Homo sapiens: one gene and its partners. The protein of the gene in region 1 interacts with the protein of each later gene in a biochemical or structural test. Each region holds a gene or a part of one and is shown on either strand. Other genes may lie near its edges.

Region 1 (6,886 bases):
AGGAGGACAGGCGCAAACTCCAAGCGCTTCACTTGCACCCGGGACCAAACCCCAATCCCAGTGGCTGGCTCCCTGAGGCCGCCCCGCTCCGTCCCGCCCCGCTGACAGCGGCTGGGCTGGAGAAGGCTCTATACGGACACACCTCTGGGGACGGGGAACCCACTGCTCCCAGCTAAAGCAACCCTGTTTCCTGGCCCGCCTCAGACAGGGCTGCAGGCCTTGTTTGAGCCCCTTTCAGGGCACCTGGCCTTGGATTGTCTGTGGCTTTGCCTGGTCCGCTGTGACTTCCTTTCTACTTGAGCCTTGCTAAGGCAGACTCTACTCCCTCACTCGTAAGCAGCCAGGCGTCCAGCAGGTCCTCCAACGTCGATCTTGGCCCTAAGACGTCCAGTCTGGGCACGGAGTTGTTGAGATCCGGCAGGAAGTCCCTGCTCCAGGGCCAAAGGCCCCACCCGGGCTCCCCCGGATGTCCCCGCACCCCCCTCTATTCTCCCAAAAGAAAGAAGCTGCTTCCCACTTTGGAAACGTTTATTCTGAGCACCGGGAAGGGGGGCGGCGGCGGGCGCCTCACTGGGTGTTGAGCTTCTTAGTGTACTCCTCGAGAGCGCTCAGGAAGCTGACCTTGAAGCTCTCCAGCACGGGCAGCAGGCCTTGGCGGAGGTCCTCGAGCGCGGGCTTGGCCTTCTCGCTGAGCGTGCTCAGATGCTCGGTGGCCTTGGCGTGGTACTCGGCCAGTCTGGCGCCGCCGTTCTCCTTGAGAGCCTCAAGGCGCGCGGCCAAGCGCTGGCGCAGCTCGTCGCTGTAGGGGGCCAGATGCGTGCGCAGCGCGTCCACATGGGCGCGCGCGCGGTCGCGCATCTCCTCGCCCAGTGGGCTCAGCTTCTCTTGCAGCTCGTGCAGCTTCTGGCGCGCGCCCTCTTGGAGCTCTGCGCGCAGCGGCTCCACCTTCTGGCGGTAGAGCTCCATCTCCTCCTGCCACTTCTTCTGGAAGTCGTCCAGGTAGGGCTGCACCTTGGCCTTCACCTCCTCCAGATCCTTGCTCATCTCCTGCCTCAGGCCCTCTGTCTCCTTTTCCAGGTTATCCCAGAACTCCTGGGTCACAGGGCCGAGCTGTTCGCGCAGCTTGCTGAAGGTGGAGGTCACGCTGTCCCAGTTGTCAAGGAGCTTTAGGCTGGAGGGTGAGACAGAAGGGTTGAGGGCTGGCCTCCCAGCGCCCCAGCCTATCAGGGGTGAGCCCTGGGTGACACCTGTCCGCGGAGGTGCAGTGGCCTAGCATTTCCAGTACACTCTCAACCAACACCCCTGCCCCGCCAGGCCATGCCCCGTTGTGCAGCTGGACCGAGGCACAGAGAGGAGCTAAAAAGGAGACAGAGCTGGGACTAGTGCCCAGTTACGTTGGTCTCCAAAGTGGGCCCTTGAAGGACCTCGCTTCTATGCCTCCAGCGCATTCTCCTCTCCGAAGACAGCCCACAGTCTTGCTGGGCAGGAGCAGAGGAGGTGGTGAAGAAGGGAAAGGGGCTTGCTACACTTGCAGGCACAATGTGGCTCTGTGATCACGCATCGGGCAGCCCTGGTCTGTCCTTTGCAGGGGACATGGGCTGTGACCCTGCCTGGAGATCCCATTCCAGTTTCTCCATCCAGACCATCTGTGGGGCCCAGCTCATCAGATATTAGGTGAGGACTCGGCCAGTCTGGCTTCAACATCATCCCACAGGCCTCTGCCCCCTACCCCTGCCCTCAACCCCAGGCTGGGTCCTTACTTTAGCTGTTTTCCCAAGGCGGAGCCTTCAAACTGGGACACATAGTCTCTGCCGCTGTCTTTGAGCACATCCACGTACACAGTGGCCAGGTCCTTCACTCGATCCCAGGGGCTCTGGGGGGGTTCATCTTGCTGCCAGAAATGCCGAGCCTGGCTCCCTGAGGGTGGGAGGGGAGACCCAGATCAGGCCAGCTGTGGGCTGAGATCTGAGCCGAAAGGCCAAGCTTGGAGGTGGGGGAGAGGGGGCCAGTGAGAAACCTGCTGCCTCTGCCCAGGAGGGTGGGCCACGGGGATTTAGGGAGAAAGCCCCCCGATGGTTGGCTCCCTAGGTTAGGGGACACCTACCCGTCAGGAAGAGCACGGCCAAGGTCAGCACCGCAGCTTTCATCCTGAAGGGCCGTGGGGGACCTGGAGGAGAAGAAGGGCCTGGCTGAGTGGGGTGCCTTCAGCATGCAGAAGCCCCGTGCTCCCCCACTCATTGCAGCCAGGTGAGGAGAAGGGCACAGAGCGGGAGAAGACCTCAGGTACCCAGAGGCCCGGCCTGGGGCAAGGCCTGAACCTTGAGCTGGGGAGCCAGAGTGACCGGGGCAGGCAGCAGGACGCACCTCCTTCTCGCAGTCTCTAAGCAGCCAGCTCTTGCAGGGCCTATTTATGTCTGCAGCCAGGGTCTGGGCTGGGAGGCTGATAAGCCCAGCCCCGGCCCTGTTGCTGCTCACTGGTCCTGGCAATGTGGAACTTAAGAGTTCAAGGATCAGCTCTGTCCCTGGGGCTGGGCAAATAGAGTGGGCAAACAGCAAGCTGCGGGGGCTGCAGGGCAGGGGTCAAGGGTTCAGTGGGGGCGGGAGGGGAGTGTCTGCAGGCTTGCAGGTCTCCCGGGTGGGGTCGGGGTTCCCTGCACTCATCCCCTTCCCCTCCATGGGAGTGTGTGGGCAGTTGCCATTGTCCATTGTGTTGGCAGAGGAGGGGAGGGGAGGGACGCTGGGACTCCTCCACCAAGGAGACTGCCTCCCCCACCACCAGCATTCCAGGGAGACTACTTCACTCCCCTCCCCCTTCCCCCGCCCTGTCCTCCCACCAGTGCTCTTCTTTAGTCCCCAGCAGGTCCTCCAGGCCTCTCTCCAAGCCTCCCAAACTGGTAAACCTGGGGAGAGGGGAGAGCCCTCCGTGGCTCCCAGACTGAGGTTTCGGAGACCTCTTGCATTTCAAAACACTCCAGAGATCAATTCGGAGCTGCCAACTTTTAATTTTGTCATGTAAAGATATTGTCCGCCTCCAAAAAACCCTCACCATCTACAGTGACCATCACTTCAAAAAGGAAAGGCTTTAACAAAAAAGGGCATAATCTCAGAATTACATTACAGAATTGAAGCCCCTTAGATTGAAGACGTCTCCCTTTGCATTGTTCACACTTATATTTGATCACGCACAGGTGTGACTGGATCTCAGCCCTTGGGAAGCCCTGGTGTGGGGAGAAGACCTCTGGGCAAAGGAAGTGGCAGGAGACCTGCTTTCTCATTTCACTTGGCCTCCATCTTGCTGGAGGAAGATCGTGGGCAAGTTATATAATCTCTCTGAGCCTCGGTTTTCTATCTGCAAAATGGGGCAAGAATGGTCAGGGTTGTTGGAGGCCCCTGAGACAGCCTGTGAATGTAAAGTGCTGTGTGTCCGTTGGTGTTTGCAGCACCATCTTGTCAGGTTTCTCCTGGAAGGCCCAGACCTCCCCCAGCAGGTTACTGATAGGACCTGAGTCCTAGAGCCTGTGATGCAGGCTGAGAGGAACTGTGACATCACTCCAGCCTCTCCCCATGCCACCATCTCACAGATGAAGAGACTGAAGAGCACAGAGGGACTTTGCCCAGAGGCTGTCATCTCTCAGGGAGTTAGAAGAAAGGCTGGACCTAGAACCCAGTCTCTGGACTTGGGATGCAGGGCAGAAATGTACCCTGTACCATCACTCCAGGAAACTCCCTAACACTAGAAACCAGGCTGACATCTCTGTTTACCAGATCAGGGAGTGGTCGGCCTCATGCCTTTCACTTCAGAGAAGATTCTGGAGCCAGAAAACCTCAAATCTAAGGGTCAGGCAGGTTCAAATCCAGCTGCCTGACCCTGGATGAGTTATGATACATCACCTCCCCACACATCAGTTTCTGATTGAAGATAATGATAGAATATGCCATCGCCCTGAGTTATGGCAGGGGTTACTGTGTGGCAAGCAGAATAACGCTCCCCAAAGATGTCCACAGCCTCATCCCTGGAACCTGTGGCTTTGCTACCTTCCATGGCAAAAAAAGATTTTGCTAGTGTGATTAAGGACCTGGAGATGGGGTGGTTGGCCTGGATTCTCCAGGTGGGCCCATTGTCATCACAGGGGTCCTTAATTATACAAGAGGGAGGCAGTGGCCTCAGAGTCAGAGAAAGAGATGTGAGGATGGCAGTGGAGATCAGACTCGTGACTGCTGGAAGGGGGCCATGAGCTGAGGGACATGAGCAACCCTTCCCTAGAAGCTGGAGAAGGCAAAGGATTTTTCCCTGCAGCCTCCAGGAGCACAGCTCTGCTGCCACCATGATTTTAGCCCAGTATGACCCATTTTGGACTTCTGTCCTCCATAACTGTAAGATAATAAATTTGTATCGTTTTAAGCATGAACTTTGAACATATATGCAAAACTGTTAGAAAGGTACCTAGCACTTAGTAAACAGTAACTATTCTGTTTTCTAGAATCCCAGTTTCTGGTAATGTATTCCCTTATTCCCACTACACTTGCTTTATCAGATCTGAGACCTCAGCTTCTGCAGCAGGCATGAAGGCAGCAGTCCCACATCTCTCTGCTTGTCCTTGACTTGCAGTTGCTGAGATATGGAACATCTTTTCTAGGACTGAAGTGGCCCCAGATGTCTATGGGACTGTGTAGACAGGGAGGTGGCCTTGGTGAGCCATCAGCCTGGGCTGCCTACTTGACCATCCCAGCTGTCTGTAGCTTTAGAAAGTGGGAAGGTGGCTGGTCCCCTGCTGGGACAGCTCACAGGTGTCTCGGGCCAAGAGAGCGTCTTTTCTTTTGGGGGGTAGAGTTTGTCCCAGTCAGCACATGGGGGAATCTCAGAAGCTTACTGGTTGGACTCCAAGATACTTGCCAGTGTTTCACCCTTCTCTTTGGTTTGTTACTAAAATGATTGTTATGGCTAAACCTAGTATTTAACATTTGCGCAGTTCTTTGTGGCCAAAGCACTTTCACAACTTAGAATATCCCTATAAGGCTGGAGGCCAGATTTTACCCTTGTGATTTTTGCCTGTGGGAAAACTGCAGCTCACAGCTGCCCTGCATCCTTCAGCGGTTACTATTTAGCGCTGGCAGGGGTGGGAATCGGGAGGCCTGGCTTCTAGTTCTTTGAGGGTGGCCTTGCACCCTTGCGGAGCCTGCAGCCTTTGCAGTCTGATCAGGGACTTCTCAGTTTCCTGGCTCAGGGACTGCGAGGCATCAGGATAGGGGGTGCTGTTGAACAGCATCTTACCAAGCAGGCAGTTTCCTTTTCTAAATATACTTATTCACCAGGGTGGCTACTCCATTTTATTGCAAGGTATTTGGCTTAAACTAGTCTAAGCCCCCTTTACTAATATTTTGGAAAGGAAGGAGGTCTTTCTGGACAGAGCTGATGGAAAAATACATAACAACAACAACGACAATAACAAACTGGGTTGATGACACACTCAGACTCAGGGTCCAGCCAGGCATTGTTCAAGGCACTCAGTGGCCACGGGTTGGACTGTTTGGTGGCTGCGGGGCCCACAGTGTAGGCCCCTGTTTCCACCCATTTCTTTCCCTCGTCTTGGGAGTCTCCAGAGCGACTGCTCCTGAACAGGGTTACCAAGTCCTGGCCCTGGATGCCCTGACATGTGTAGGAGTGTTGGCGGTGACCGCAAGAGTGGATTTTGCACAGAAAGATTAGCAACTCCTTTCACAATTTATGTCCAAACATACTGGTCCATCTGTATCGGGAGGACTCTGTCCCCTGCTAGGTCTGGCACATAACAGACACCTGCCAAACATCTGCTCAGTGAATGGCACTGGCACCCTAGAGGGAGGGTCACCAGCCTGGTCATAGGGAGGAGTGGGTCCTGGGAGGGGAGGCAGTCTCATACCAGCCCCTGCTCAGAACGTTTCTTCTGGGAGCACGTGGTATGAGCCAGAATGAGAGTTAGGGAGGGGAGGTGGTGACTGAGCAGGGGAGACAGGACCCCCACCCCCAGTAGTTCCTACTTTTGGCAATTTTGCTGCAGCTTTTGTGATAGAGCCCCAAGTTAGACCCTTGGGTGGGGCACCGTAGCCAGCTATGCAAGATTCTCTCCTGCCCTCCTGCTTGGAAAAGACTAAGGCCAGGACAGAGCTCATCTTTGATCAGCAGGAGGGAAGCACAGTAGCCCTCTGAGTTCTTGATCTTTGCAGTTGGGGTGGGGTGGGGGCTGGCACAAAGTCAGAAAGAAAACTGTGTAGAGCACGGTTTTCTGTCAACATGGCTCCTGTTTTCTGGAGCTAAGCTCTCCAGTCTGTATCCAGGAGCCAGTGCCCTGCTTCCTACAAAAGCTCACCCTACCTCTGGTCCAAAGGCACCCTGGCTGATTTTAGGAGGGAGTGGCACCTATTGCAACAGGTGCTACAATTTGCTGGAAGGCATCTGGGTATTATCACTGTTTGATTCTAGAGACTCACCTAGTCTTGCATGACAGCGTATACAGACTCAGAGGAGTTTTAGAAGGCCCTTCTTTTTTTTTTTTTTTTTTTTGAGACGGAGTCTCGCTCTGTCGCCCAGGCTGGAGTGCAGTGGCGGGATCTCGGCTCACTGCAAGCTCCGCCTCCCGGGTTCACGCCATTCTCCTGCCTCAGCCTCCCAAGTAGCTGGGACTACAGGCGCCCGCCACTACGCCCGGCTAATTTTTTGTATTTTTAGTAGAGACGGGGTTTCACCGTTTTAGCCGGGATGGTCTCGATCTCCTGACCTCGTGATCCACCCGCCTCGGCCTCCCAAAGTGCTGGGATTACAGGCGTGAGCCACCGCGCCCGGCCAGAAGGCCCTTCTTGAGAAGGCTCTTTTCTTCTCTAATCTAAATGGCCCTACAGCAACTTTCTA
Region 2 (6,672 bases), on another chromosome or scaffold:
TGTTTCTGTGTCCAAATAATAACTGCAGTAATAACAAATATTTGAGAGGTTAGTTAGACCTGAGCAAAAGCCTCGTTTTCTTAAACAATGGGGCCTGGTGATTGTCCCACTGTCTGTCATCAGGGATATCCTGACTAAAAGAAGGGACAGGATTGTGTCTTGGTCACAGAGGGATCATCACCCTTCCTCTCTGCATCTACTCCCTCGAGCCATCTCGGCCCTAAATTGCCAACACAGGCAGATCCCATTGGATTTAAGCCTTTCTCCAGTCCCATCAGCGCTAATTGGACACATGGAATCCAGAGGTCTGTGAGTCACACTTTCTTAGGACATTCTCTACAAGTCCAGAGAAATGACCAGAAGGGAAGGGAAAGGAAGGGGCCCTGGGGTCCACCCAGGGCTGATAAAAAGGCCCTAAGCCCTACAAAGGTGGAGGCATCTTCAGGTGTGTGTCAAAGTACGAAGTTAACTGTACAAATTAGTGCAAGTCCAGCAAAACCCTGATTTTTCCCAAGATAATTATTTTGAAACAGTTTAAACATTTTATTTTAGATGTCTTTTTCTTTTTTTTCCCCGAAAGCCCGCTGGCTCCTAGGTTGGCTGTTGCCCTAGGCACAGCCGAAGCCGTCTGTGGTTCTGCACTCTGAGGTACAGAGAAGGCCAGAGCGTCACAGGGAGGCTCAGGACGTCAGGGAGCTGAGGGCCTAAGATAAATAAAGTAAAAACAACCGCTGTTCGAGACTCAAGTCCCCTGTTCTCTCGCCTCACGCGGGCACAGGGAGCCCCCGGGCCGCACACTGGCCAGGGGCGGAGCTGGATCCCGGAGAGCCGCCGTCTCCGCTTCGCCGCCCTTCGCGCGCCCCACTTCAGCCTTTCAGCGTAAGGCAGGAACCTTTTTTCCAGACGGCAAAGAAAGGGAAGACTTTGCCGGAGAAAGAGGCAGTGAAGGTGAAGATGGGCTCCTGGGTCTGGGCGTTGTGGAGGGTCACCTGCCCCGCCTCGTAGTCCAGGGCGACTCTCACGCCGCGCGGGATCTCGCTCAGCGGCAGGTCGGTGCCCGGGGAGGTGCTGGCCCAGCACTGCTGGTGCGAGATGATCACGGCCCAGACGCCGTCCTCGGCGCTGAGTCCCATCTCTCCCTTCCTCCTCACCCCCTCCCCGGCCACCCCCACCGTGCAGCCGCCGCCGTCGCCCAGCTGCAGGTCAACCTGCCAGCGGTGGCGCCCGGAGGAGAAGCCCGGGAAGCCCAGAACCGCCGGGAGGCCGTCGAAGCGCAGGGGGCTGTCTGGCAGGCTCTTCTTCTGCCGGGTGTACCTCACTGACTTCCTGTCTTCCGAGAGAACCAGGCTCCGGCTGGCGGTCTGAGGGTCCAGAGTGATGACCCCTAGAGGGAGGAGCGCGCAGACATCAACAGCGGGCGGCAACCACAGATGTTCCTAGAGCAGGCAACGCACGTGGGAGGCAGAAGGAGTACTGGACTTGGGCAGCCTGCCATTGGGCCACTTCTCTGAACCGCCCTTCTACCTAATCAGCAAGTGGTGCTGTTAAGGATTTGCTTCTCAAAGTGCAGCGGGAGGGACCAGCAGCATCCCCACCACCTGGGTGTTTGTTAGAAATGCAGAATATTGGGCCCCATCCCACCCTACTAAATCAGAATCTGCATTTTAACAGGATCCCTAGGAGACGTTTCTGCATATTAAGTTTGAAAAGCACTTACCTATACCAGAGTGAGTGAGGTGATGCTTATGGAAACAACTTCTAAATTAAGCACCAATTTAAAAATAAATGTGATTTTTAAAAAATTGCACATTTTTTGTTCAAATCAGTAGAGAGCCCAGCACAATGCTCTCAAAAAACTAGGGCTTGATAAGTATTTTTCAACGAGTAATATCTACACAAGTAGATGACATTAATTGAGCACTTACTATGAGTCAGGTAATATACTAAGCTCTTTGCATGTATTAATTTATTTTGTCCTCACAGCTACTTATGGGACAGGTACAGTACTTTTATTTTCATTTTACTGATGAAGAAAATATTGTGGGACAGAGGCTTAATAACTTGCCCAGTGTCTCAGAGCTAGCAAGAACTGGAATCGAGAACTCAAGCAATCAAGCTCCAGAATTCATGCATTTTATTGCTCTGTTTGCTGCCATGGATTGAATGGATGAATGGAAGAATGACTCCCCAAATCCCAAGCTGTTTACCTGAATCTATTTCCAGATGATGCGCCAAGTTTTCTGAGGGAAGCAGAAATAGAAAGAGAGATCTGTGACTTATTACTTCTTATAGGCACCCCCAGGGGCAAGGTGACTTGAGTACAATGTGAAGATGAGGACAGAAGACTCGGCTTCTGCTGTGGTCTAGTGGAGGAGAAGGGTCCTCACCCTCCTGGACTCTCAGTCCTGCACCTGTCCTTAGGGAGTGGAGGAGATGCTCTGGGAATAGTGCCCCTGAATAAATTGAGATCACTAAGGGAAGGCTCTGGGGAGGGAAGATGTCTCGAGCCAGGTTTCAAGGGCAGAGAAGGATGGAGATGGGTGGAAGACAGGAGGGCAGCTAATGGGACTGGGGAAAACTGTGGCGCCTTCCCCTTTACCTGAGAACATCCTCATCATCTCTGGGAGGGTGAGTATTTTCCTGTGGAAATCACGGATCTTCTTGACAAGGTCAGGAGAAATGGCCTCAGGACTCACAAAAGTCTTCATCTCACACCTGCAGACAGGTTTGGTAACCAGTTAGGTCCAAATTCCAAAAACAAATGTTCGGGTGAGACCACGTGAGGCTAAAATCAGACTAAAGAATGATCTTGGCGTCTGTGGTGAATAATGAAATTGAGTATCATTTCTTTACTTTTGCTGGAAATGTGTAGTTACTAAAATAGTAGGCATTTCAGTTAAACCTAAGAGGAACTAAGGATAATCACTTCTCAAGAATTGGAGGTAAGCCCCTTTAGGAGAATGTTTGGTTCTGTAGGGGCTGAGGGACAGAGATCATTACCCCTTTTGGTCTCTAGAGGGCAACAGGGTACCATTTGAAAACAGCCTTAAACTACCCTTGTGTATGCTGCTATTTGTAAAGGAAAAGAGGCTAGAAGGGAAGAAAAAAAAAGGATCAACGAAAATATATATTGCAATGAAAAAAACTCCTGATTCTGGTCCCAGCTCAGTCCTCATTAGACACTTGCTGCATTACCTTGAAGACTCTTCACCCCCTGGGTCTCAGTTTCTTCCTCAGACTGGAAGACCTCCAAGCCCTTCTAGATCTAAACCTCTAATGCTCTTTGAAAAGCATGTTTGGAGACACTTCCTGATTCATGGACCCTGGGTTTATCCTCCCTGCACGGGAATAGGCACAAAGCACGTGACAATTGTTCCCTAGTCACTACACCTCTCTTCATCTCAGTGCAGACTGCTAATGCTTATAGCAGACAGGGAAGGAAAGGGCCATGCATTTACAATGCCACTGGCTCCTGGTGGCTGTCCTTTTACAGTAGCATTAGAAAATTCTGAAGGAAACCAGAGATGTGTGTAAAAAATGAATGAATGAAAGAACAGGCTGGTATTCCTGGTTTCCATGCTTATCATAGTCTACAGAAAGTATTCCCCCTTTAAATTACATTTTAAATGGTGTTAGATACTGACTCAAGTACTAATAATTTCATAGATTAAATAAATGTTCCTGGATCAACCTAAAAACATGATTATTATTTATAACTTCACTTCTAGGGGAAAAAATGTGTCCCCAATACCAACCAATCAATTTAAAAATGAACCTTTAGAACGCAAATCTTTAGTGAGTTTGGACTGTTTGTGCACAGTTGAATGAGACAGTGTGTCTGCCAGAGTGCCTTTGCTTTCCTGGCAAAGTGGGTGGCAGTAAGTGCCCCTGCCCCTTCCCATTCAGTCTTGATGTTGAGTAAAAGGAGGCAGGACCGGGGAGTGGGCCCTACCTGCTCTGGTTGACTCTGACATCCTGCAAAAGAAAGACAAGAACATACATTTAGTTTCCATAAGTCCTTCCTGTCAGGGATTCTGTACATCACTTTTCCCTTAAAATATGAACTCAAAACTCTCCTTCTGCAGAGAGTTGTCCTGTTTAATTACCTACTCATTAGATTGTTCTTTTACATCATGTTTTCTTACTAATTTGGGTTTCTGTAGTCAGTTCATTTGTGCTGGTTTCCCTGTTTCAGCCTTATCGTGGGGGTGGGTTGTGTCTGCAATGATTAGGAGGTGGTAGAGAGCAGGGGCCTGCCTTCAGTTATCAGCTGGACCTGATGTGAGCCAGGATCACATATTCATAACCATAGCAGACACCAGTTATTGAGTTCTTTCTGTATATCAGGAATCATGCCAAGCATTTTTTATGGATTGTTTCTTATAATTTTGCAATAACTTTATGAGGGAGGTGCTATTGCTGTCCCCATGTTTAGAGAGGCTAAGAGACTCACTCAAGTCACACAATTGGAAGAGCCAACATTCAAATCCAAGACTGTCTGACCCTAAACCCCTTAACATGACCACAGTGTATGACTTGGGCAAGTCTCCAGCCCCTCTGGATCTGCACCCCGTTAACCTCTCTCCACTTCCCTTTCCTGCCTCTCTCCAGCCCAAAGCATGGTGCCCACCCCCTTCCCCGTGGAGTCCCTCTCTTATCCTACAAAGTGGTGAAGTGTCTCTCACTTGTAGAAGCTCACTTGCTGGCTGCTGACACTTCTCCTCCAGCTCCTTGACCTGGGCTCCAAGCCGGGTGACTTCCTCAGAGACCTTTGTGATATATTCATCCCTCTCCTTCCAAATCTGCTGCTCCAGCTCCCTCAGCCTGGCCAGCAGGAGACATCGCTGCTGCTCCAGCTCCTGCTGCAGCCTCTCAAAAGCTGTTTCCACCTGATGCTTCTTGCTTTCGATCTGAGTCTTCAAGGGATAAAAGGCAGACATGGTTAGGAAGGGGCTCAGAGATAGCTTCCAGGATGATCATCTATATACTTATTATTGATTAACAGGGATAGGGAGCAACTGGTCCAAGACTCATTCCATTTACTAATATGCCTAGAAGTAGTTAGGTCTCAGGATGAACTTACCAATGATGAGGGCTGTGCTACTGTCTTAGCTAGATACTCTAATAATAATGCTACATTATGCTCTCAGAATGATGTTGAACTTTTCAAAAATATTTCCACAACTACAATACCATCATAACCCTACTATGCCTTCTTAGAGTTAGGTGGGGAAGACTGTAATAATTTCTTAGAGGCAAAAGGAAGTTGTGATTGGAGTCAACACAACTTAGTGGGAGAGTGTGTAATTTTGGTTTTAGCCGTGGAAATCACCAACTACAGGGCATACGTTGATGAGAGCTGAGGGATGGTGGATAGGTTGCTTTGTCCCCACACTCTCTCCTTGGTCAAGGTACCAGAAATCCTCACACTGTGATTCCTCCATAACTTTATAGCATGAAAAGAGAGGCGTGAGGGATCCAGATGTAGCCACACCATCAGCCTACTCTCCTCAAGGTCAGCCTGTAGTCAGGACTAGAATCCCGACACTAACATATGTTTTTGACCCCAAGCTTCCCATCTGAAGGTGGTGTGTTCAGGCAAACAGACTAGGATGGAAAGAACAATGAATTAAGGGTCAAGAAATCCAGGTTCCTCATGAACTTCAGCTTTGCTATGTGGCCTTGGGAGCATTGCTTTTCTGGTCCTAAGTTTTCTGCTCTGTAAAATGTGATATACAAGATGGATCTTGGATTGCAAGACATCAGAACCACTTCTAGTGCTCATGGTCTGAGATCCCAAATGCCTTTGTGCAGCCACAGGAAGGTGAACGAGAACAGTTTGTCAGTTCTTTTCAGCCAGGAAACAGATACCAGCCAACGGGTTTCCCCAGAGTCTCTTAAGAAAACCTTCAAAGGAAAAGGTAGCCAGTGACGTGGCCTGTACCAGCAGCACTTGAAGCTTCTGGTCTTCTTGACACTTTACATCCTCAATCTCATCTCTCTCCGTGCTCAGAGCTTCCAGTCGACTCCTGAGACGATCCTGTGGGGAGAAGAATGGGTGGATAGAGGTGACTGAATTAATAATTCAACTCACAATTATTAACTATCACATCCTGGGCACACTGTTGAGTGCTGAGGGGTTCAAAGGTGGAAAAGGCCCAGTCCTTGCCCTAAAGAGACCACCATCTCAGGAAGAAGTCAATGTCAAGTGATTAAAATACAGATAGATAAATGCAATAGTCCAGGGGTACACACAGTGAGATGGGAACACAGAGGTCAGCTCTGCCTGTAGGCCTAAGGGAAGGTTTGGAAAGCAGAAAACATTTACAATGTGCCTTGAAAGATAAATTTCCAGTTGAATAGAGAGGGAGAGAAAAGGACTTAGTGCCCACAGATGTGAAGGACCTCTTCAAGGAGAACTACAAACCACTGCTCAAGGAAATCAGAGAGAACACAGACAAATGGAAAAACATTCCATGCTCATGGATAGGAAGAATCAATATTGTGAAAATGGCCATACTGCCCAAAGTAATTTATAGATTCAGTGTTATCCCTATCAAGCTACCATTGACTTTCTTCACAGAATTAGAAAAAACTACTTTATATTTCATATGGAACCAATAAAGAGCCCACATAGCCAATACAATCTTAAGCAAAAAGAATGAAGCTGGA
Region 3 (7,907 bases), on another chromosome or scaffold:
GGGCACCTCTGTGCCGTATCCAGCACCTCATCGGAGCTCAGTAACTGCAATGCCCCCCTCCTTCCGCACAGGGGCTAAGAAGAGCAAATACAATCGTGGATGTACTTGAAAATCCTATCTAAACTGTCAAGCTGTCTACACAAGCTATGGGCTACTTTTATTTTTCTGTCTCCCTCTTGGGAGGTGGCTAAGGGAGTTCACTGCCACCGGCCATCCTTAGGAAAGTGGTGGAGGTGGGGTTTGTGTCTATGACTGGCAGTCTCCCCTGGCCTCCCCAAGTCAGGCAAATACTACTCCTGACCTCATTTCCATGGTAAAGAGCCATACTGGGAGAAGGGGTTGGAAAGGAGGAGAGTCAGAAAAGGCCTTTGTAGCCCCAGATTTGTTCTCCTTTGGGGACACAGTTGTGTTCTGCAGACTCAAGCAGAAGGCCTTCCTGGAGGGTGGTCCCTGCGCAGAGCTCGGGGGTGGAAAGGAGACACCCTGGCCCACCTACTCACACCTGGAATGACGATCCCAAGACAGTTCAGTAGCAGGAGGCTTGGAGCACATGTCACACCCTGCCCCCAACGCCCCCCGCCAAATAAAAACTCACAGGAACCCTATGGGGTCAGCAGGACAGACACCACCCTCTCCATTTACAGATGAGAGAATGGAGGCCCAGAGAAGTGAAGCACATTGCCCAGCACAAGCAGTGTTCCTTTCTAGGGGTGATTTTCTGCACCAGGTTGGTGCTTCACTTACGTTGATAGGGCCATTGGTTGGTTGGTGAGGGAATAAATTAATCTCCTCCTCCTTAAGGACCTCCTATCATGTTCACATGCTAACTGGATGGAGATGGATAAAGCTGTTTGGGCAAGGAGGGCCAAGGCCAGGCTAGTTCACAGAGTGCCTTAATGCAAAGTAGAGAAAGGTGCCCTTCTTGCAGGTGATGCAGCTCTGCACCAGGGAACACAGTCTGGCAAAAGGAGTCCGGGCTGGATTTTGGCCCCCTTGTATAGTGAGCAACCTGCACAACTATCCTTGGTAGCCCTGAGTAGGGAGATGAGACCATACGATGGGTTTTCCCAGGATCCCTGAGAGCCCAGTGGGTGGTTCTGCACACAGACGCCCAAAACATGAGGCCTGGAACAGGGGCAGGCCAGAGAGGCAGCCACTGCCCACTCACCTGCCAGCACCTCCACCAGGACCTTCCTGAGGGTGTCAGCCTCACTGCCATGGAGGCTCTGGCACTGGTAGAGACCCGCATCATGGGGTTGTAGATTCCGCAGCGTAATGGTGAGAGTGCCACCCAGGGTATCGTCTGTGATGGCTGTGCTCCCATTCCACCTCCTCAGGAAGGACAGCAGCCACAAGTTGTGCGTGCTGACCACACGCTGGCATGGGCCCTTCTCTCCCAGCTGGCGGCACCAGGCCTTGCGCCTCCCCCAGTGCTTCATGGAGTCATAGGGGCAAGACACCTGCAGGGACTGGCCCGCCACGCCCTGGAACACTGTGGTGTTGTGGGCTCCGGACAGCTCTGGGGAGGAGACATTCATTCACTCCTTTGTTTACCAAATACGCTTTGAACACTTGCTCTGTGCAGTGACCTAAACAGACAAAAATCCTGCCCTGAAGGAGCTTAGGTTCTTATACAAGTTGGGAGCGGATGGCACAGCATGTGTTTGTGGGAAATTGGGAACCAGGAAACCTGGGACCTGGGTTTGGTTTTCTCACTGTTGCTCTTGCTGGGCCTCCTTGGAGAAGTAACTGACCTTCTCTGGGTCTATTCTGGAGGCACTTGGTCTTAAAACCCCCTCCAGTTCTGTTCTGCACATCTCTTTGCCATCATTTGGGACTGGGACCTCTCCTCTCGGCCTGGGGCTGGCTCTCCCTGCCCCGCCACTCTTGCTTGCTCTGCAGCCGCCCACATTGGTACCGACTTTCCTGACCTTTAACTTCCAGCTTCCCTATTTCTGTGGCTTTGTTCCCCTTTCAGGAAGGACCCGTCTCGGAGATATTTTGGGGGAGACATGAGGCTGCTATTTTGGGAACCCTCCTTAGGGCGGGGGAGATGGGCTTAGAGCACCAGCCTGTTGCTGGGGCAGCCCCCAGAGCCCCCTGCTTTGACTTCTCTCTTGGTCCTCCCTTGCCTGCCATCTTCAACCATTACTGTGACAGAGGCTTGAAAGATAGGATTGGGAAGTTGGTGGCTTGCCTTTTGGAACTAGAGAGACCAGATGGGCCGTGGCCCTCTCCCATCTGACCACCTCCCATCCATGCCTCAGAACCCCGCCTTCCCCCTGACCACCATCTAAGAAGCTGCAGGAACAAGACTCCATTTGGCACCGTCTCTCCTCTTGCCCAGGTTTGTCCAGTGCTCTGGGGGAGCAAAAGGTGCGCTTTCCTCAGCGGGAAGAAGCAATTGTGTACAAAAATTTGGTGTGTCAATTCCCCTCAACTCAGCAACGGAAATCTCTACGCTCCTCACCTCCCATCAAGAGCTGAGGACAAGGGGACCTTCAGAGCAGGGGAGAGAGTGCCCCAAAGATGCAGATGAACATCCTCAGGTTCTTTCCTCCTTTATAACTGTAGGGGCTCATAATTAGTGGCTTATAATTTCAGAGGCTATTACCAGTGCCAGTGCCCCCCAAAGCTTCCCCCAACTGCCAGCTAGTGCCTGGGATGCCACTGTTAGCACTCCTTCCCTTCCAATGCAACCAGAGTCCACCAGCCCCTTACATGTCCACATGCAGAAAGAGTCTGAGGGTAGGTTTTGATACTGGGGAGGGAAGGAGGGTGTGAAGAATATGGGCAGGGTGGGGAGGAGAGGAGTGCAGAACAGGGCACTCAGGCATGCGAGGACTGCCACCGCCTTCATAATTCACCCCAGGGCCCACCACCCGCGCCCCAACCACATGCTCAAAGTGAGGGAGAGAAGGCATCACAGGGCACGGAGGGGATCCTACCTGTGACAAAGAGTAAGATGAGCAGCCGGAGAGGCTCCATGCCACCCTTCCCCAGCCAAGGGCAGAAGCAGAGTGCCTTGTGCAAGATCTCGTCTTTCCCTTGAACTGCAGAAAAGAGAGGATCAGGCATGTCAGGCGCTGCCCACAGGAACTGGGCTCCTGGGGATTAAGCAATAGTCAGGACTGGGGTCTGGAGGCGGTGCAGGGTGGGGACAGAGGGGAGGAGGAGTCGGCCACTGCAGCCCTGGCAGAAGGAGGCTGAGTCTCCCAGACCTCTGAGAAGCCAGCCCACCCTCCTGCTGGTGCCAGCCAGGGTGGCCCCCAGATGGTTGGGGCTGGTAAGGCCCTGCACTGCTCAGTTTCCTTGCAGAGCCTAGCCCAGGGATCACTATCCTCACAGCTGTATTCAGACCCTCCACCAGCTGCAATGCCCGCCATCTTCTGGTTTCAGCCTTGCAAGAGTTGGAGAACAGCTGTGCCTTTAGAGGCCAGGACCCTCATCCAGCACCTCTTAGTTCATCCCCCCAGGGCTGTCATTCCTGTAGTGTGGCAGCAGTTAAGTACACAGCTCTGGAGCCAGACTTCCTGACTTTCTGGGTGTGTAACCACACATCCAAAACCTACCTGTGTCTGTTCCCTGATCTATACAGTGGGAATAATGATAGTGCAAAGGGTTATCAGGAGCACCATATGGGTTCCTACAGGTAAAGTGCTTTCCAGTAGGGCCTGACACACAGCATTCAACAAATACTAACTATTACCATTATCCTAGTTAGAAGGGAAAAGGGAAATGGGCTGTCCATAAGACAGAAAATTTTCTCTCCCACCTGGAATTTTCTGCCCAAGTTTAGCCTTCTTGGAACTGTTGGGTGTCTCCTGTGCACACATGCTCACACTGGTGTTTATTTTGTGCACACACATGCTTGAACTCCTGATCATCCTATCCTACAGGACAGGACAGGATATTTCTCAGAGTTCTGGGGGTAGGGGTGTGTTTTTCTACACGTACAGGTTCCCATGGTGATCCAAGCACAGGGACCCACGTGTGCAAAGGCACAAAAGTGTGAAATGGCCCAGTGAGTCGGGGATTGGATGGAGGAGGCTTGAGTCAATTCTAGGAGTGGGAAATGGAGTTGTGCTGGGAGTGGCAGAAGAGGCTGGAGAAGCCTGCAGGAGCCTGTAGATTATCAGGGTCTACTTTAGTTTCCTGCAAACACTCACTTATTTGTTCTTTTATTCATTTATTTACTCATATTTACTGTGCATCTAACTTACGGACAGGGAATGTGCTTGGAGATGGGGAATTCATAGTGAGGAGAAGACAGGCCTCCACTCAAAGGGCCAACTGCCCGGCCTTGCCCCAAGGGCCTGGGGGCTGAAGTCTGAGGCTGCCTGAAGATCACTCTGTAGGTACTCTTCTAGGGTCTTTTTCTAGAAGTCAGGTTTATTGGCCCATAATTTACATATACAAAAATTTACCCCTTTTAAATGTCTAGTTGTGTAAATGTTGACAAACTCATGCATCTCTATAACAACCACCACAATCACCATGTCTGTGTAACACAATACCATAATATAGAAAGTTTCATTTAGCTTAAGCGAGAGCCTTTGTGCCCATTTTAGCCAGTCTCTTTCTCTCCAATCCAGGGCCTGGCAACTACTAAGCTGACATCTGTTTCTGTAGCTTCCTGCCCTTCCTAAAATGTCATAGACATGGAATTAAATAGTATGTAGCCTCTTGGGTCAGTCTTTATTCACTCATCAGAATAAATTCAGCATGCGTGAAGTTTCACTTCTCAAGAATGTATTCCTTTTTATTGCTAAACCATCTTTCATTCTATGGTTGAACCACAAGTAGCGTATTCATTCACCCGCTGATGGATATTTGGGTTGTTTCCAGTTTGGGACAATTATAAATGAAGCCACTATAAACATTCATGTACATATGTTTTGTGTGGACATATGTTTCTATTACCCTTGGATAAAATCCTAAGAATGGGACTGCTGGGTCACATGTAAGTGTATGTTTAAGTCTATAAAAGCTGCCAAAGTCTTTTCCAAAGAGGCTGTACCATTTTTACATCCTTGTCAACAGTTAATATTGTCAGGTTTTAAAAAGCCTTTCTAATAGGTTTAAGGTGATATCTCCTTCAATTTTAACTTGTATTTTTCTAGTGAGTAACGATATTGGACATCTTTTTGTTGTTTATTGCCATCTGTACCTTCTTCAGCAAAGTATTAGTTCAAAACTTTTGTCCTGTCCATTTTTAATTGTTTATTATTATCATTATTATTGAGCTGTGAAAATTCTTTTTATTCTGGATAGCAGTCCTTTATCAGATATGTGATTTGCAAATATTTTCTTCTAGTCTGTAACTTTTTTTCTCATTTCCTTAGCAGCATTAGCAGCATCTTTTTTTTTTTTTTTTTTTTTTTTTTTTGAGACAGAGTTTTGCTCTTGTCACACAGGCTGGAGTGCAATGGTGAGATCTCAGCTCACTGCAACCTCCGCCTCCCAGGTTCAAGCGATTCTCCTGCCTCAGCCTCCTGAGTAGCTGGGATTACAGGCACCTGCCACCACGCCTGGCTAATTTTTTTGTATTTTTAGTAGAGACGGGGTTTCACCACGTTGGCCAGGCTGGTCTCGAACTCGTGACCTCAGGTGATCTGCCTGGCTCAGACTCCCAAAGTGCTGGGATTACAGGCATGAGTCACTGCACCCAGCCTAAATGGATAGATGTTATTTCTGATGAAGTCCAATTCCTTGATTTTTCTTTTTACAATTTGTGCTTTTCTGTGCTCTGTTAAAAAGTTTGCCCATCTCAGAGTCACAAATATTTTCTCCTATGTTTTCCATTGGAAGTTTTATAGTTTTAGGTTCTACATTGTGGTCTATGATTCATTTTTCATTAATTTTTGCATGTGGTATAAGATGCACTTTGCAATTTTTTCAACATATGAATGTCCAATTGTACTAGCATAATTTGTTGAGAAGACTTTCTTTTCTTCATTGAATTACCTTAGTGTATTTGTTGAAAATCAATTGACATGTAGGTCTAGTTCTGACTGTTCTGTTCCGTTGATCTATATGTCTATTCTTTCTCCAATATCACACTGTCTTGATAACTTACTGTAGCTTTACACTGTCTTAAAATCAAACAGTGGTTCTTCAAAATGGTTTTGACTCTTCTAGTTACTTTGCTTTGCCATGTAAAATTTAAAATCAGCTTGTGGATTTCTAATCCTCTTCTTCTCACCCCCAAAAATCTGTTGGGCTTTCAGTTGGGATTGCATTGACTCTATGGTTTAGTTTTAGAGGGAAATAGACAACACTGTTGAGTGTTCCAAGCCATGGACACAGTTCAGCTGTCCATTTATTTGTTTCTTCTATGATTTCTCTCATCAGTGTTTTCAGTTTTCAGCATACAAATCGTGCACATATATTGTTAAATTTCTACCTAAATATTTTATGATTTGGGGTGCTATTTTACATGATTCTAGCTTTCTGTTTCCTAGGCAGAAGCATAACTCATAAGCTCCATAAGTTTTTATCTTATCTTCTGGTCCATTTAAGCTGCATATTGACCCCATGTCCCCACTCCTTCCCACATGAGGAAAAGGTCTTTAAACCTCATGGAAAAGCGAAGGCACCAAGAAATCCTTACCAATTACTCACAGCACATGTACATCAAAGGCTCTTCTTTAAACTTGTGTTAATTTTCCTGATCCCTCGATCCTATATTTGAGCACAGGAACAGTTCTGCACCACCCGCACTCCCAAGCACAGGATTCTTCTTTTCCCTTTGCTAAATCTGAATTCAAAGATACCTTCCACCTCACATCTGGGCACAGAGTTTATGTCCTTCTGTCATTACGTCTGAACTTCCTCACTCACCGATGTATGCATTCATTCATGTGCCAGGCATGGTGTTACAGAACCATGGAGCCTTTGTGTTCCTAGATATGATGGTGACCATTGCTGGGGAAAGCCTCAGAACCAGAAGCATGACTGCACACATGACATGCTCCTGATGTCTAACTTTAACTGAGACCTCACAGCTGCCTGGTCATCCTCTTCAGAACTCCTGGAGGCTAGAGTAGCTGTTCCAAATCATCACTCTCCTCAAACACACACTTTCACTCTCTCTTCTCCTTTCTCCCTAGGAGTAAATCAAGACGGTCAAGTATGAGCATCCTCACCACCTTTCAGATCAGATCCTCCATTATCTTCCCATCTGCACCCAGCCAGCTTGAGCAGCCAGGAAAGCACTAGGTGTTGGTCAGGACCATGGCCAGTGCCAGCCCCTGTGCTAGGCTGGGGAGGCATGTGACTGGAACAGCCGACATAGGAACAGGCCTCTCAAAGCTGGAATAACTCCAATTTGATTAGGCTTATTGTCAGCCCAACCTGGGACAGCCCCTGCAAAGCCTTGCCTGAGAACTGGGCTTAAAGGGGTGATTGGTGGTGTCCATTCCACCCTTGGCTGGGGCCACCAAACTACAAACATAAGAGCCCACAAATGCCATTCACTAATAAGCAGCCACTTAAGACTTCTCTTTCCCAGTTCCTTCTTTGATTCTGTTCTGCTTTTACTTTATCCTACCTTCCTACATCCAAACCCCTGCCTTCAAGTCCCAATCTTTATCCCGCCTCTGATCTGGCTCAGACTTGACCCTTCTTCCCATCTCTCTCTTTGTATTTGTTGCATCATCCTCTGACACTTTCAGCTCAGGCAGTTCTTCCATTTTAACACTTCATATTTTCCAAGTTGAAGATCTCGGTTCCTATTCAGGGCCAATGACTCCCCTCTCCAAGCCAGGACACCTCCTGGGGAGTGTGTGTGTACATGCGAGTGTGTGATGGCACTGGACTAGGTCTCAGGCAGGCAGCAGGCCAGTCTAGCAGCAGCCAATGGGCCCAACTGAAGTGATGCAGGATGTTAGACCAAGGGAAGGGCT

Evidence for each region.
Region 2: the proteins of APOA1 (region 1) and TRIM15 form a complex in vitro, tested with the Homo sapiens proteins (one study listed by BioGRID).
Region 3: the proteins of APOA1 (region 1) and TREM2 form a complex in vitro, tested with the Homo sapiens proteins (one study listed by BioGRID).

Annotation. Positions count from the first base shown.
Region 1 is NC_000011.10:116,835,241-116,842,126, forward strand, and holds APOA1 (apolipoprotein A-I isoform 1 preproprotein), read right to left. Parts: upstream 2,383-6,886; 5' UTR 2,365-2,382; exon of another isoform or gene 2,279-2,364; intron 2,168-2,278; 5' UTR 2,148-2,167; coding exon 2,105-2,147; intron 1,918-2,104; coding exon 1,761-1,917; intron 1,172-1,760; coding exon 568-1,171; 3' UTR 511-567; downstream 1-510. UniProt on the Homo sapiens protein: Participates in the reverse transport of cholesterol from tissues to the liver for excretion by promoting cholesterol efflux from tissues and by acting as a cofactor for the lecithin cholesterol acyltransferase (LCAT).
Region 2 is NC_000006.12:30,166,544-30,173,215, reverse strand, and holds the end of TRIM15 (E3 ubiquitin-protein ligase TRIM15), read right to left. Parts: intron 6,041-6,672; coding exon 5,945-6,040; intron 4,917-5,944; coding exon 4,686-4,916; intron 3,976-4,685; coding exon 3,953-3,975; intron 2,716-3,952; coding exon 2,600-2,715; intron 2,241-2,599; coding exon 2,208-2,240; intron 1,385-2,207; coding exon 867-1,384; 3' UTR 523-866; downstream 1-522.
Region 3 is NC_000006.12:41,160,095-41,168,001, forward strand, and holds the start of TREM2 (triggering receptor expressed on myeloid cells 2 isoform 1 precursor), read right to left. Parts: upstream 3,023-7,907; 5' UTR 2,989-3,022; coding exon 2,949-2,988; intron 1,520-2,948; coding exon 1,169-1,519; intron 1-1,168.